Regions from separate parts of the Homo sapiens genome. Here region 2 is linked to region 1. The links come from fine-mapping of genetic effects on gene expression. Tissue or cell type: thyroid. Region 1 holds a variant in brackets; the other region holds the start of a gene. All regions are shown on one strand. Distances are between the middles of the regions.

Region 1 (8,178 bases):
CGGGGATGCTCCCGCCCAAGGCCCCTCCCAGGCTACACACCCCTTCCCCATGCCAGGCGCCTCCATCCCGCTGACTCAGACTGGCCACCTGCCTGCCTCTCCCTGGGCCTGCGCTCTGGGGGCAGGGTCCACTTTTTCTGCCTGGCTCTCGGGGAATCTGCGGCAGGTGAACAGGGCCTGAGCCTGCAGGTGGCAGCGCCTGGTCCTAAGGAGCGGCCTTCTGTCTGCTCCCAAGAGCTGCTGCTGCCAGCTCCACAGGGCCCCTCCCAGCCAGAGGAGACACTCCGGGCTGCTCCCCACTCTCCAGCTCTTTTTCCCTTCAGCTGCCCCTTTTCAGGCCTCTCCTCCCTGGTGTGATCGTTTTTATCTGACTTGAGAGGAGAGGTTTGGCCTGACCCTGCCTTCCGATGGATCTGAAACCTACTTTTCAGACAGGGGCTTCAAATCCCAGACTCTCTGCTTTTGAAAGTTTGATGATGGTGGGTGGAAGGTTGCGGGGGGCTTCCTGAAACCTCTCGTAACTGGGGGTGATTTCCTCTTAGCCGTAGGCTATTTAGGCAAGGAAAGAGGTCCTTGTTCTCAGTCAAAGGAGAGATGATGGCGTCAGGGCTGAGGCGCCGGCAGGCCTGGGCCTGCAGAGACGACCTGGCTCTGCTCCTGAGAAGCGCTCACTTCCTCACCTGCCCCAGGCCACCAGAGCAGATGCTTTGCCACATCCACCACAAGGTCCTGTGGCGTTGCGCTGCCCCGGAGCCCCACTGGGGAACCCCATACTCTCCTGATGCTACCAGTTGCCATTGGAGCTGGGAGCTGCCCAGGCGGCTGCACGATGGCTGTGAGAAGGCCCCGGGCGCGCCACGTTTTCCTCTGAAAGTGCTGTGAGCTGCGGCTGAAGCTTGCCAGTATCATGCGCTGAATTTTAACGAATAAGGAGAAGGGAGGAGGAGGAGGTATTTGGTTGGGGTGAAATAGAACAAAGGCCGGCTGAGCTCCTGGCAGCCCTGGCAGGGGCTGCAGAGGAGGCACTGATAGGAGGCTAAGCCACTGGGCTTCCGGGGATGTGTTGGCGATTCTAGCTGGCAACATCAAACCTTATGCCGGCATCAGGCCCGCCCCCTCGGACCCCTGAAGAGCTGGTGTCGTGTAAACACAGGGTGGGGTCTGCTTCCTCTGCCCGGATGAACACCAGACTGTTCTTGCTGTGCTGAGGTCTGGAGGACACAGTGCCTACGGTTTCCACCTGTCTACAGAGAATTCAGACCACCAAGAGTGATTAGTTCAAAGGTCTGTAGGCCAGGGACAGCTAAGAACAAGGCCAGGGCCTAGCCTTACAGCTTCTGCTCAGACCACAAAGAAGAGAGCCGGCTTTAAGCACACCTTGGAAGCAACGCCACCCTGCTGCCCAGGGGAGGTGGCCCATTCAAGAGTTCCTATTTGATTTGTCCATTTCACTGATGGCTGAACTGAGGCTCTGCTCATAAGTGAGCAGCTCTAGTTAGTTGTGCTAGAATGTGTTCCTGAAGTCCTTGCAAAATCAGTTGAAAGAGGGCAGGGATGGTGTCTGCTACCACTGTGCTCCCAGCCCCCAACACAGCTTCCTGCACAATGCCGGCACTTAGGGCACCCACACGAGAAAGTTTGTGTGCACAAGTGCACAGAAAGGCCATCACAAATGCCTACTTCTGGCTGGGCTCATGCTCTCTGGACTCTCTCAAAAGAATGCACCTGAGGGCATTTGGCCTTCTCCCCCTGCAGGAAGTGGATGGGTGTTTATCAAGTAGCTTTATTCAGAAGGAAGACAGAAGAGTCCCAAAGATCAAGGTGACAGGCGGTGTGATTTTATGGTCACATAAGAGGAAACAGGTTTGAGCCATGACTTAGAGAAACAGGTGACTGTCGCTTCAATTTACACAACACAGTGTCATCAGACTCTGCCGGGCTGCAGGCTCTGTGCCCAGAGACACACCCCCAACCCCCCTGTTATGTCACTGGGCAGCCCCACCAGGCATCATGTAAATGTCACATTACCCTTGGCAGGATTCCTCCAACAGCACATCGGAAACTTGGCTGCAGGAAGGCAGGAATGTCTGGCGTTGTCCCGGGCTCCCTCCCTGCCCGGGCCTGCTGACCCAAGTCCTGTGACCGTGGCCCAGAAGGAAGGGACAGGCATGGGCACAGGCTGACAGATTCTGACCCGGAGGGACTGGGGCATCCCCAGGAAACGTGTGGGTGCGGTGTTTGCATCGGATGTCCTTACTCCTTGCTCTGGCCCTCGGTGTTGGGGGCACATGGGGACACCAGGCCATGCAGGCAGCAACCATAGTTGCTGTCACCACAGGAAAGGGAAGCTGCAGACCTAGGAGGGGCAGCGATCTCTTGGGAGACACAGAGCAATAGCAAAGCGATGGCAAAGCCGGGAGGGAATTGTGAGAGAAAGCCCTCCGTGCTGTGTGTAGATGTGGTGGAATAGTATTCAGCCTTCAAAAGGAAGGAGATTCTGACAGGTGCTGCCTTGTGGATGAACCTTGAGGGCATTGTGCTGAGTGAGAGAACGCAGTCATGAAGGGACAGACACTGCCAGATTTTACTCATATGAGGTCCCTAGAGTGGCCAGATTCCCAGATACAGGAAGTAGAAGATGGTTGCCAGGGGTTGCAGGTGGGGAGAAATGAGTTATTTTTATGAGGACAGAGTTTCAGTGTTGTACTATGAAATGGTTCTGGAGATGGTGGTGGTGGGGGCTGCACAGCAGTGTGGTTAATGCTGCTGAACTGTGCGCTTGAAGATGGTCAATTTTAGGTTGTGTGCATTTTAACAAAATCAAAAATAAATGTTTAAAAAGAGTGGACTGTTTGGATCAACAAATTAGCTAACTCAGCGTCTTCGTCTGTTTAGGCTGCCGTAATCATACCATAGACTGGGTGGCTTATAAAGAACAGAAATTGTGGCTGGGCACTGTGGCTCACGCCTGTAATCCCAATACTTTGGGAGGCTGAGGCGGGCAGATCACTCGAGGTCGGGAGTTCAAGACCAGCCTGGCCAACATGGTAAAACCCTGTCTCTACTAAAAATAGAAAAAAATTAGCTGGGTGTGGTGGTGAGCAACTGTAATCCCAGCTGCTCAGGAGGCTGAGGCAGAAGAATTGCTTGAACCCAGGGGTCACAAGTTGCAGTGAGCCGAGATCACACCACTGCATTCCAGCCTAGGCAACAGTGCGAGACTCCGTCTCAAAACAAAAAAAGAACAGAAATTTCTTTCTCACAGTTCTGGAGGCTAGAGTCCAAGACCAAGGTGCTGGTAGATTCTGTGTCTGCTGAGGACCTGCTTCAGCTCCTCCTGGCTGCGTCCTCACATGGTGGAAGGAGGAGGGGTCTCTCTGCGGTCCCTCTTGTAAGGGCATGGGGCACCACCCTCCTCACCTCCCAAGGCCCGGCCTCCTAACACCATCACCTTGCGGGTAGAATTCAACATAAGGACTTGGCAGGGACCCACACATTCAGACCACAGCCTTCAGAAAGTTTTACTAACATATTTCTTGGATATTTGTAAATATTTTTATACTCAGTATATAGATGTCTTTAAAACACAACTTTTAAAGCTAAAAATAAAGCAAGCTCTCAAGGTGCAGCCATTGCATAGAACCCTCTCGTGGGCCTAGCGTGGCTGCTGATGGCCCGGGGAGGTGATGGGCCTGGAGGAGGGACGGGTGGGGCATATTCAGGCCTGCAAACTCCTCTCTGGGATGAGTAGCCACCTGGTGAGGGCCTCACCTTCTCACTTTTCCCTGGAACCCCTCGTGCGCCCCTCGGAGGGCCTTGGGTCTCCTTATGGCCGCCTTGGGCCTCCTGTGCTGCGGGTCTCAGGCCTGCCCTGGGCAGCAGGACATCATCAGGCTTTCTGCATGTTCGGACCTGTGCCAAGAGCCGCTGTAGAGAAGACTCATTGACCTGTCCACACCTTTCAGGGATATGCAGAGATATACCAAAGACCCCTGTCCTCAGGAGCGCCGGGTGACTGAGTCTGGTGGAAGGTGAGGGCGGGTGAAGGAGTGGGATCTCCCTTTCTGCTCCCAGCCTAACCTTTCAGCTCTCTCCTGCCCCCTCCCCTTCTCCCAACAGCAGGGGAAGGCAGGGTACAGGCTGTGTGAGCACAGCTGTCTCCAGGAGGGGAGGGAGTTGTCTGGGTGACAGGGCCCAGGTTGCCTGAGCCTCTGAGACCTCGCTCCTTCCCCCTCGCACTCCCCCGCCCCCTGGTAGTGGCTCCATTCTGTCACCTTCAGGAGATGACCTTTGGGCCAGAGGGAGAGGGAATTCAGCTGCTATTTTTATGTGAGCAGGTCTTGGGCCCCAAGGCGGAGGCAAGGTTTCCACCATCATGCTGAGGCGTCTCCATCCGAGCCCTGCCTGTCCCTCCTTCAAGGCCCAGGGGAAAAGCACCTGCTTCCCCCATTGCAGAGACAACCCCCCCGAACTCATGTTAGGGCACTGTTGTAAAAGTCAGGATTATTTAGCTATAAGTTACGTAGAGTAAAACTCACCCTTTTAAAAAAAAATGTGCTATTCTGAGAGTTTTGAGAAACATCTGCAGTTGTGTAATCAGCACCACCGTCAAGACATAGAACAATTCCAACACCCAAAGAAATTTCCGCATCCCTTTTTATAGTCAATTTCTCCCCTCATCCTCAGCAAACACTGACTTTTTTTTCTGTCCGCTATAATTTTGCTTTTTCCAGAATGTTGTATAAATGGAAATATATAGTATGTATATATTTGGACCTGGCTTCCTTCACTTAGAAAAATGCATTTGAGATTAATTCATTGTGTTGCATATATTAAGAGTTCTTTCCTTTTTATTACTGAGTAGTGTTCTATTGTATAGATGCACCAGTTTTTTGGTTTGTTTTTCATTTTTTTTTGTTTTTTTGTTGTTTTGAGACAGGGTCTCACTTTGTCGCCCAGGCTGTAGTGCTGTGGC[G/A]CAGTCATGACTCACTGCAGCCTTGAACTCCCAGACTTAAGTAATCCTCACACCTCAGCCTCCCAAGCAGCCGGGACAACAGGAGTGTGCCACTGCACCCAGCCAACTTTTTTAATTTTTTGTAGAGATGGGGTCCCACTATGTTGCCTAGGCTGGTCTTGAACTCCTGGCTTCAAATGATCCTCCTGCTTCAACCTCCCAAAGTGCTGTACCAGTTTATTAATTCACCAGTTGAAGGATGTTTGAATTGTCTCCAGTTTGGGGCAACTATGAATAGAGCCACTGAAAACATTGCATTCAGGATTTTGTGTGAACAAGGTTTCATATCTTCTAAGAGTGGCATCGCTAGGTTGTATGGTAAATGTATGTTTAACTACAGAAGAAACTGTCAAACTATTTTCCAAAATGGCTATACTAGTTTGTATTTCCACCAGTGACAAATGAGAGTTCCTGTTGTTCCAAATCATTGTCAGCACTTAGTATTGTCAGGTTTTTGTAGACGTTAGCTGGTCTAGTAGGTGTAGTGATGTTTCATTGTAGTTTTAATGTATATAGCCCTAAAGATTAATGATGGTGAATATCATATCATTATTTGTCATCTGTATATCTTCTTTGCTGAAGTATGTGTTTAAATCTTCTGTCCACTTTTTTTTTTTTTTTACTGAGTTTTTTTTGTTGTTGTTGTTACTGAGTTTTGAGAGTTCTTTATATACTCTGCTACAAGTCCTTTATCATATATGTGTTTTGCAATACGGTCAGCCCTCCATATCTGCAGGTTTCACCTCCTCAGCTTCAACCAATTCAGATCAAAAATATTCAGGGGAAAAAATAATAAAAATAATAATACAACAATAAAAATACAGATGAAAAACCAACACAGCATAATAATTACTTGCATAGCATTTCCATTATATTAGGTATTATAAGTGATCCAGAGATAATTTAAAGTATACAGGAGGGTGTGTATAGGTCATATGCACGTATTACACCATTTTATATCGGGGACTTGCACATCCTAGACTTTGGTGCCTGAGAGGGGTTCTGGAATCAATTCCCTGCAGACACAGAGGGATAGCTGTGTTTTCTCTCTGTCATGTTTCTTGTTTCATTTTCTTAACGGCGTATTTTAAAGAGCTTAAGATTTAAAGTTAGATTTGTCTACTTGTTGAGCACTATGTACAAAGCAAGCTCCACAAATCTTTCTTGAGCTGGGACAGTGCACCAGGCCCCATGGGATAGCGATAAGCGAGACTCACTGCCATTCACGCTTAGTGGAAGACCCGAGGTGCATCAGGAAACAACCCAGCACTCTATCATTTGATAACATTGGAATGTGCTAAGTGCATGAAAAGGAGGAATGATTCACTCTAGAAACCAGTGAGGGCTTCACAGAAGATGAGCTTAGCTGACAATAGATGCTGAAGCTGTGGAGTGAATCAGAAGTGGAAAAAACCCGGCTCCCCTAAGCACCGTATTCAGATATCATTTTTCATGCACTGATTCTAGAAACCTGGCACTAAAGAGAAAATTGCATGGAGGCAACATGTATGATGTGGTACAATTGAATCCGGGAACCCTGGTCCTGTCCTTCCCTCCCAGCCTTGCACCTTCCTAACGGCTGCTCCTCTCTTGGGTCCTTTGTGGAGTATCCGGCCTGCCTTCTGCAGATTGACCAAGAATAACAGAGCAGGAACCTTTCGGGGAAGAGCAATGTGTAGAAAGGGGAGGCAGGGCATCTTGGAAGTTTGTCAAGTAGATGAGGTATCTGGAAGGGGGCAGGGGGCTTTCCAGAGCCTCAGATCATGCAAACAGAGGGCTGAGTTCTCCCTCCCCGCGAAGCGAGCTCTACCAGGGGTAGGTACTGTCCATCAGACACAGGCAGCATTAGGAATTCCAAGCTCCCTAGCAAGAGGGCTCCTTTCCCACCTCCCTCGGGATGAGTGGTTACCTGTCTATTAAAAACACTAGCAGCAATTCAGGTGTGATGCTGTCATTTTTTATCATGGCCCTGAACTCCCAGAATTGTTGTTGCCATCGAGGGGCAGAGGTAAACCCTAGGTTTGAGATTCCAGATCGTCTTTGAAAGGATGCAACCAATACTTTTGTTTCCACCACGAGACGCTTATTTCCCTTTCATCTGCAGCTTTCCTTCCTCTTCTCTTCCTCCTCCGTGGAGAATCGTACCAATTAATCACTGGAGGCAGACAACCACTAGAGCTCACGATCCCTGCCTCTCCCTTCATGATGTGAATGAGGAGAGCTCCTGGAGCTGGGAACGGCACCATGGAAACGAGCTCTGGGGCAGAGGCGGCAGTCTGGACACCGTCCCAGCCTCCCCAACCCGTCTCACTGGCACCTGACACCCAGAGGGCCTGCCGGGGTGGCGTCAGATGATGTGTTGAGTCAACAGAACCCCAGGAGAGCCCTGGTTGGAGTCCCATGGCAGCCGGCTGCAGCCAGCACCCCAGGAAGGGAGTGTCTGCCACCGGCTGCAGCCGCCACCTGGCCTCCTGGGAGACCTGGCGGGAAGGGGAAAGCCGGGCAGGAACCACACTCACAGACGGTCTCCCCATCCCCGCCTCTGCCGCCTTCTCCTGCTTCGCTGTACGTGGCTCTCCAAAGTGGAGGTTTGGGAATGTGCTTCTGTGGCCCATACCCCACGTGGCCCACACCCCATCGTGCCAGGTAGAACAATGCATTCTTGTCTCCCCTGAGAGCTGTACACCTGGAAATGGCTTGGGATACACTTCCAGGAGGGGATGGTGACTGAAAGCCCTCCCTGCATCACCCACAGCCCTTCCCACCTGTGCCTCATCCAGAGCCGTGAGCCTGGATGATCAGAGGGAGCCCTCCAGAGTGAGGATAAACAGCTCAGGAATGGGACCATTGTGGGAGGCCACTGGAGCCCCCCAGGAGGGGATCTGTTCATGAGCAGTGAGCTACCACCAAGGGTTCAGAGCAGACTCAAAGAGCTGAATTATAGAAAGCACAGGAAAAAACTCCAGGTACTATTACAGATTTTAAAAACGACTATGCTCTGGAAGCTTTAGTGTGACAGGGTCCCAGCGAGGCGTGATCTTGATTTGGTTATCACACTGATTTTCCACTTCATTTTCAGCCACATTTTCTCCTATTCAGGGCTCCTCAGAGACTTCTGAGTTTGGAGGTTCAGGGTGCAAAATGGGTATAGCTCCTCTCAGAAG
Region 2 (8,178 bases), 180 kb before region 1:
GCTATCCCAAACCATCTGTAGGAAGGGCCTTGGGTGGTTTTTTAGTTGTTTCTGTTTGTTTTTAATTTCCAACTTACTGTGGAATGATACTTTGTAAAATTCAATAAAAAATAAATTACTAGAGCAATACAATTAACAAAGACATACCAAATACAATCAGGACAAAAATACAAGCTCCCTTAAAGAGGCCACAGAAATATTCTGAAGACCATCCCACTTCTCTTACAGATGGGGAACTAAGGGACCTGCCCCCATTGCATAGCTGGTCAGAGGCAGCTCCTCTGGCTGAAGCAAGCTGGGTGCTTTGGCCTAAGCCCTAGCCCTGACCCCAGCCCCAGATCCAGCCCCAGCCCCTGCCCCGGCTCCAGCCCCAGCCCCAGCCCCAGCCCCAGCTCCAGGCCTGGCCAAGTTCTCCTTCTCATCCTTCTCGGAAGACGAGGGGGAGGTGAATGAGGCATTGGCCTCAGGTGCAAAATTTAAGGGGGTGCCAAAAACTCAGTCACCAAGATAAAGAATATGTAATGCAATATATTTCTAAACATTAGAATTTTACACAAAGACAGGATCAGTAACAGTGCTGAGCCGAGCAATATTGGCACCGGAGGCAAAAGGCAGAATCAGTGACATTGTCAGAGCCTTACTTAAAGTTTTGGCCTTTTGTTCAGCACAGATTTTACTGCATTAATGTTGAGAAGGAGGTCATAGGTAGGGCATAGAGAAAGAGTGAATGTCAGGGGTCATTATATGAACAACGTCGCGTGGGCCCGCGACATTTAGCTCCTGGCTAAAATAACTGTGTGCACACCAACGGGAGGGGAAGACGGGGGTTTTCAGAAAACACCTCAAATCAAAACAATTACTGTGTTCCTTCCACTCTGAGACTCCACCAGTCAGAAGATATGTGATCAATTTGTTAATGTATCTCTAGAAGGAAAAAAATGGCAGGTAAACTTCTTCTGACATCATCTATAAGCAACCCCCATAATTCAGAAATATTCATATATAGAACCCTGAAGGGAAAAATCCCAAATTGTTTTTTCCTCTGCTCTCACGCTACGACAATCATCAACGCGGAAGGTTCGTGTCACCATATGTGTGTGTTGGGGGTTCTCCCCACTGCCAAGCAAGCAATCAGTTCCGCAGGAGACACCAGGGTGTCTTCCAACTCATTTCTGACACTGTCTACCTGGAGATAGTGGCAGATCCCACAGGTTGAGGGCTCAATCCCCAAGGCACCCCACCCCCATCCCACTTCGCACAGCAGTTGCAAGTCCAGGCATCCGGAGCTTCTGACCGACAGGCTGGGCTCTCAATTGGGGTTCCCACAACCCCCTCTCAGGTTCATTAATTTGCTAGAGTGGAACACAGAACTCAGGGAAATGTACATTTACTGGTTTATTATAACGCATATTACCAAGAACACAGATGATGGGATGTACAGGGAGAACAGGCACGGAGTTTCCATGCCCTTCCCAGGCACCCCGTCTTCCAGCAGCCTCCACATGTCCAGGGATCCAGAAGCCCCCAAACCCAGACCTCTTGGGCTTCTTAAGGAGACTTCATTGGACAGACACGATTGACGACCATGCAGAAATGTGATCGAACAAAAAGGTATGATCCAATAGTGACTGAGTAAGTGTGGACACCCAAACAAGTCCTGCCTATTCCGACCGTTATTGGCCTTTCCGTGCAGGATTTCTTCCTCTCGGGAATGGGGCAGGACCCCTTCTGAATAGAGGGTCTTAAGTCCCACAATCAGAAAGATGAGGGAGGATTAGAGTCCTGCCTTGGGCTGGTGAGGTGGTGAAGGAGGGCAGGGGAAGTTCAGAGGAGATTGTTTCCTGGGGTGTCTGAGGCCTAAAGCGCCCCAACATTATAACAAGAGACTGTGATGAGGGCGACGAGAGTGCTAAGCCAGGAACCCTGGACAAAACCCAGAATTTATACCTCGTCATATCACAAGGACCAAAAAAATTAAAAATTAAAAAAAGGCTCTTAAAATGCAGGCAATACAGTAAAATGTTTTAATGTAGGAAGCACTAAAGTCTTTGTTCCAACAAAATTAACTCAGAGAACAAATTATTTTACATATGTATACAGATCAATCAACAAAAGTACACATTATAACAATTGCTAAACACTGTCCATAAAGAAAACATTTCAAATGAGAAGCGCCATCGCGGTTTTCTCCTTCTGGGTCACCCAGTGGAATGAGGGCCCTCGCCAGGGGCTCTTCCCAGACGTCTCTTCACACCAACCGGCTTCCTTCTGATGGCCCCATTTTCCTTTAAAACCAGTTCTCATCAAATAGGGTGTTTTATGCACCCTGGCAAATGATCATTTTGACAAGGATTAAAACTGTAAGCTAAACAGATGACACAAATGACAATTGGGAATAATTTTTAGTGGGGACAGAGGCTAAATACTACCCCCTCCCCTTTTCTACTTCTAACCAATATCTTGAGCATTCAGTGGGACAATACAGTCTTGCTGGGTCTCTTGAAATCCTCTAGCAAGAAGCCAGCCAGGAGAAGACCCAGAAGTCCCACACCTGTGGGGCCAGGATGGCTGCTTGGTTGCTAAACCCAGACAGGGTCCTTCCAGTGCATCTGCCCCTGTCAGGCTCTGTCTCGAGACTGGGGATCTTCCAGGCTGGCTTCATTCTGGACCAGAGAGCAGAGGAGAAGGAGAAAGAATATAAACCCACCCCTATGAGCCAGGGAACCACCCAAGCTGTAAGGATTTTGTGCAAGCTGCTGGAACTCGGGTTGGAAAAGCCACCCGGCAAGCAGCTGAAAGGAAGGATGCTTCTCCCTGCGTGGGCGCACGCCTGCTTCCTAAGAGATGATCCTTTGGGTGGGCTGATCATGCCTCCTCCTCTGGGGAGGGAGTCCTGCGAAAGCACGCACCTCAAAAGGAGTAAAGGCCCTATGGTGTCCCCAAAGCGACCCCTGTCGCGTTCTTTCTGCGGGTGGCCTCCCTGCATTACTGATTACTCGGAGCGGCTGAGCTGACGTCAGCATTCTGGGAGCGCCAATGACCTTTGGGGTCATCACATCCTCAGAAACTAGAGCAGGAGGGGAAGCGACCCCCAAGCCAGCACTCCCCCTACTTTCCACCAGGGAGCCGAGGTCGCGCCATCCTGGGGCGCATCTGGGGGTGGGGGACACACCAGCCCCCTCCCCCAACCCCTCTAGGGCCCTCGGCAGCAGGCGGTACTGGATGCCCACCCGGGGCTCTAAAGGACCTGGGCCGCACCGGGAACCCTCGCCCGGGTCTTCGAGCCCTCCCCTTCTCCCAATTCTTTCCGCAGTCTCAGGAGCCCCACGTTTCCCGCGGCGTGGGGACACGCACTTACCGCGGATCCACTGCGCAAACCTTGATGAACCTGAAAAAAGCAGGGTGGGGTGGGGTGGGGTGAGGGTGGGGGTGGCTAGACCCTGCTCGCACCCAGCGCCACGCACCGCTCTCTGGGCGGGTTCGAGTGCGCGCGCCGGGCGGGGCGGGACCCGGGGGCTGCGGTGTTTCGAGAAGCACGTGCTACTTCGCGCGCAGCGCCCCCGGAGACTGTGGGCTTCCTCGCTGCCTGGTCTACGGCAGGGCGGGCGCGGGGGCGTGTTTCAAAGGGTAGGGCACACAGTGAGACGCCGGGAGGCGGGATGGATCCGAAACCAGCTCGCAGCGAGTCCCAAGCGGCTGCGGCCGCCGCAGGGGTCTGGGCGCGGCGACGAGGGCGGCGTGGGGCGACGGGGAGCGGGACGGTGGCGCTGCACGCCGCGCACTTCCTGTTCAACACGCGCCGCCTCCCACCACCCGCGCTCCCCGAGCTTGCGTCGGTGCCAGGCCCGGCCCCTCACTGTCCCCTTGCGGTCCCCTGGGGCCGCGGCGCGGCGGGGGGCGAGGAGCGGGCGCCCTGCCCTTCTTGGCCCGCTGGACTCCGGGCGCCCCCTCCGGCGCGCAGGGCCGCGAGCGCCGCCGCCAGAACTTCTGCCAGCGGCCGCCCGTAGCCTAATTGCGCAGAGGGCTCGCCTTGCACCTCCTCTTCCCCCGCCGCCCTCCCTCTCGCCCAGAAAGGAGGACGGACCCAGCTGCAGGCTCCGAGCTGGTTTATTCTGCGGCCGAGGATTACATTTATGCACGAACGGGCTTACTGGTTCCAGATTCCCCACTTGGGCACAGGCATAGGAGGCTTGTTTTCCAAATTGCTGGTTTTAATTGCACCTGCCTTTCAGATTACCTCTGGGAATCTGTGGGAGGAGCCGAGAGGGTGGAAAATGTTTCTTAGCTTTGCAAAAGGAAGAAAACTTTGTCACCCAGCGGGAGACCTCAGCCACGAGTAACCCGGGGAGACACCAGAACCGGGACGGGCTTTGACTGATTTGCCTACGAGGGTTCCGTAGGAAAGGACGCTTGAATTCGGCGCTTCGGCGGCGGCGGCGGCCGCGCGAGTTCCCTGCTCACCCTCCCTCTCCGCGGAAGTCCCCACGAGGTGGCTTCAGGGTGTAACAGAGCGCGCGGCTCCAGTCCGAAGGCAGCGGCCGGGGGAGGGAAGGAGGGGACCGAACCCCCGAGGAGTTTCGCAGAATCAACTTCTGGTTAGAGTTATGGGAAGCGCGGTTATGGACACCAAGAAGAAAAAAGATGTTTCCAGCCCCGGCGGGAGCGGCGGCAAGAAAAATGCCAGCCAGAAGAGGCGTTCGCTGCGCGTGCACATTCCGGTGAGTCCCAGCACTCGGTCCCCTGCTCCCCAGCCCTCCTGTCGCTCCCGTCCCCGGCGCCGAAGCGGTTAACGCTGGACGCCCCGCGCGCGCCGTGCGTGCCCCTCCTGTCACTTCGGGCGGCTTGGGGAAAGGGTAGAGGGACAGGGCCCGAGCTGGGCTGGCGGAGCCGGGGCTCAATCTCTCTCTCTGCCCGCGTGCAGCCAGGGCTGGGGCTCCGCCTGGGGCGGGGGCTGGGCGGCTGCAGACTAGAGGGGGCGCCGGGCGCGGCGGGTGGGCGGCTGGGCGTAGCCCGGTATCCAGCCGGGTGCGGGTGCGGGGGGCGGTGCGTTGTGTTGTTTTGCTGAAAAGGGACGGTGTGGACTGCGCTCCGGGGAGGTGGAGCCCGCGCTCGGCTGCTGGAGACGGAGAGAGGGGAGGGGAGGGAGGAGAGGGGAGGGGCGGTGGGTGGGGAAAGCAGCGGGGCGGGGGTTGGGGGGAGCTGTGTAGCTGCGTCTTCCAATGCACCCCCTCCGCTCCAGTTTCTCTCCGGGCGTTTCTGGGCCTGGAGCGGGGGTCTCCTCTGCCGCCGTTCCCTTCCCCCGCCCCGGGAGTGTACTTTGGGTCTCTGTGGTATTTGGGGGCTCGGAGCTCCCTAATCCGTGCAGGCTGCATTGAACTTCAGCCCCGTCCGCGCCAGCCGCCCGGGAGGACATTGGCGACTCGGATCTGCCTGCGGCTTCACTTTGTCCAGCCAGAGGGGCGGCGGGCCGCGTAGTGGTTCTCTTTTCGGAAGGCGCCCCGGTAGCCCGCGGCCACTGTTCCTCGCCTCCACGTAGCGGGGTAGGGCGGTGGGAGGTGTGGCCCACTGGGTCACACCCTCCGCCTCAGCCAACCAAGTAAATGTTTGTGTACACACACACACACACACACACACACACACACACACACACACACACACACACCAGAGTGCTCCGTAGAGAAAGTTATTTTGCTCTCCCGGGGCAGGGTGGGAGTGCGCAGTGAATGGGCTGTCCGGACCCCTCATTAAAGCTAATCCTTCCCGACAGGGTCAGGCGCAGCTGGCATGGCCGAGGCAGGCCACTCACTTCCCACTGTGAATCCCAGGGCGCACTGCCCCGTGTTTGCTGAGCCACCCTTCTTTTAGACGCCCCGCTAAGGTCCTCCTGTGTAAACTCCGGCCCACACGTGCCTAACGCTTGGGTGAAGAGGGTGGAGTCCAGGGGCGGGTCTCCAGACACCTGATGCCAAGTAGCCCCACAGGGGCCCTGGGCCAGCCCTCCCTGGCTGGAAAGCTCTGGGGCTGGAAACTTGGACCCCTGGCTGCTGTGTGGCCCCCACGGTGGTGACTCGATTATGCAGGAATAAGTGTTCTATTTGAAAATGAAACATTCTTGTTTACATCTCTCATGTAAGACATTTAAAACCATGTTCGTGAGTTAAAAGTTAGATGTTGCTGCCACAAACCTCTTAAACAGTGATCACTTGAGCTAACCGTGTAACTACTGTTTCTCCCATTTGTCAAATGCAGGAAATAATACCCATTTTTCCTGCTTTATACGGATATTGAAATAAAGTAATTCATGGGAAAACTCTTTTTTATTGTTTTTTTTGTTTTGAGTCAGGGTGTCACTCTGCTCCCCAGGTGGGAATGCAGTGGTGCAATCATGGCTCACTGCAGCCTCAACCTCCCCAGGCTCAAGTGATCCTCCCACCTCAGCCTCCTGAGTAACTGGGACTACAGGCATGTGCCACCACACCCATCTAATTTATTTATTTTTTTTGTAGACATGAGGTTTTACCATGTTGCCCAAAGCTGGTCCACATGAGCTGGGCTCGAGTGACCCGCCCACCTTGACCTCTCAAAGTGCTGGGATTACAGGCGTGAGCCATCACACCCATCCCGGGAAAACTCTTGACAAGTGTAAAGTGTCCTATAAATGTATGGCTTATACATATACATATACATATACATATACATCATATACATATACATATACATCATATACATATACATCATATACATATACATCATATACATATACATATACATCATATACATATACATATACATCATATACATATACATATACATCATATACATATACATATACATCATATACATATACATCATATACATATACATATACATCATATACATATACATATACATCATATACATATACATCATATACATATACATATACATCATATACATATACATATATATCATATACATATACATATACATCATATACATATACATATACATCATATACATATACATCATATACATATACATATACATCATATACATATACATATACATATACATCATATACATATACATCATATACATATACATATATACATATACATCATATACATATACATATACATCATATACATATACATCATATACATATACATATACATCATATACATATACATATACATACATATACATCATATACATATACATCATATACATATACTTATACATATACATCATATACATATACATATACATCATATACATATACATATACATCAGACACCTAGTTTTTTAAAAAAATATATAGAGAGAAACAAGAACATGCCATTGTCCAGTGGTTGGGCCATTTTGTGTGGCAGCCACATGCTGAGGCTGGTTCCAAATGCAGGGTGTGAGTGATGTGTGGGCGTGCCCGTGGGGTGGTGCCAGCGATAGTGTGAGACAAAATCCAGAACCAGAAAAAGGACTGTGAGGCCAGGCCGTGAACGTTGAAAAACCATGTTATAGTTGGGGTCCTCGGACCACCCTTCTTGCTGCCAGTGGTGACTTTGGCAGCTTTTCATAACGTTCTTGGCATGAGCCAGCCCACCGCGAAAGTAGTATTCATTCAGTTATTCCACAGTGGCTGAGGGTGACCACGTGCCCAGGCTCTGGTTAGGGTGAGATCTGGGGAAGATCTGCCCAAGTCCTCACAGGGCTTGCAGTTGCTTTGGGTACCAGGGAGGTCCCCTCATCTGCCTAATGGTCATTACCTATGGATCATTGTGCCAGGCTAGGTGGCAGTTATAACCTCGCTGGGAAAATGAGGCTTTCAGACAAAGGCTAGCAAATGATCCAGGGTCATACGATGGCCAGTGCAGACCACACCTGTTTCTAGAGGCAGAAGGAGCGATGACAGTGGCCTGATGTGTTTAGAGAGACTTTACACCCAGAGATGGCAGGCAGGAGTCACGTAGAAGTGGGGGTGATACTCCCACTAAGGAACCAGTGGGAGCACCCCACAGAATCGGGCGGGAGGGGATGGCTGCTTCCAGGTGAAGAGCCACGCCTCCTGGCGAAAGGGTTTGAGAGCTAGAGTCATAGGAAATGCTTTGAGACTGGATCAGGAAGGACCTGGACATAGGGTTGCCAGCTGTAGTAACTAAAAATACAAGATGCCTAGTTGAATCTAGATTTCAGGTAGAC

Alleles and levels. Positions count from the first base shown, and alleles are read on the strand shown. Sizes are in standard deviations (SD) of each study's normalised expression.
As copies of G replace A in region 1, the expression in thyroid of the gene that starts at base 4,110 in region 2 goes up (moderate effect, 0.41 SD a copy in GTEx).

Evidence for each region. PIP is the estimated chance that this variant, and not a neighbour inherited with it, causes the effect.
Region 2: PRKAG2 starts here. The variant in region 1 is fine-mapped to the expression of PRKAG2 in thyroid (GTEx, PIP above 0.99).

What each region holds. Positions count from the first base shown.
Region 1 is chr7:151,688,942-151,697,119 of GRCh38, reverse strand. All of the region lies in intron 3 of PRKAG2 (protein kinase AMP-activated non-catalytic subunit gamma 2), which reads left to right. Among named protein-coding and RNA genes, the nearest start is that of PRKAG2-AS2, 110 kb to the left of the region's middle. RefSeq lists enhancers at 1-4,321, 6,532-8,178. The variant G/A (reference allele first, on the strand shown) is at 4,976.
Region 2 is chr7:151,873,047-151,881,224 of GRCh38, reverse strand. PRKAG2 (protein kinase AMP-activated non-catalytic subunit gamma 2) reads left to right here and starts at 4,110. Exons shown (of 16, transcript NM_016203.4): 1 at 4,110-4,718. The coding sequence starts at 4,605. It overlaps PRKAG2-AS1 (PRKAG2 antisense RNA 1), which reads right to left and starts at 4,183. Exons shown (of 3, transcript NR_038926.1): 1 at 4,085-4,183; 2 at 3,359-3,388; 3 at 2,002-2,663. RefSeq lists silencers at 3,616-4,045, 4,808-4,857, 4,918-5,057 and an enhancer at 5,248-5,367.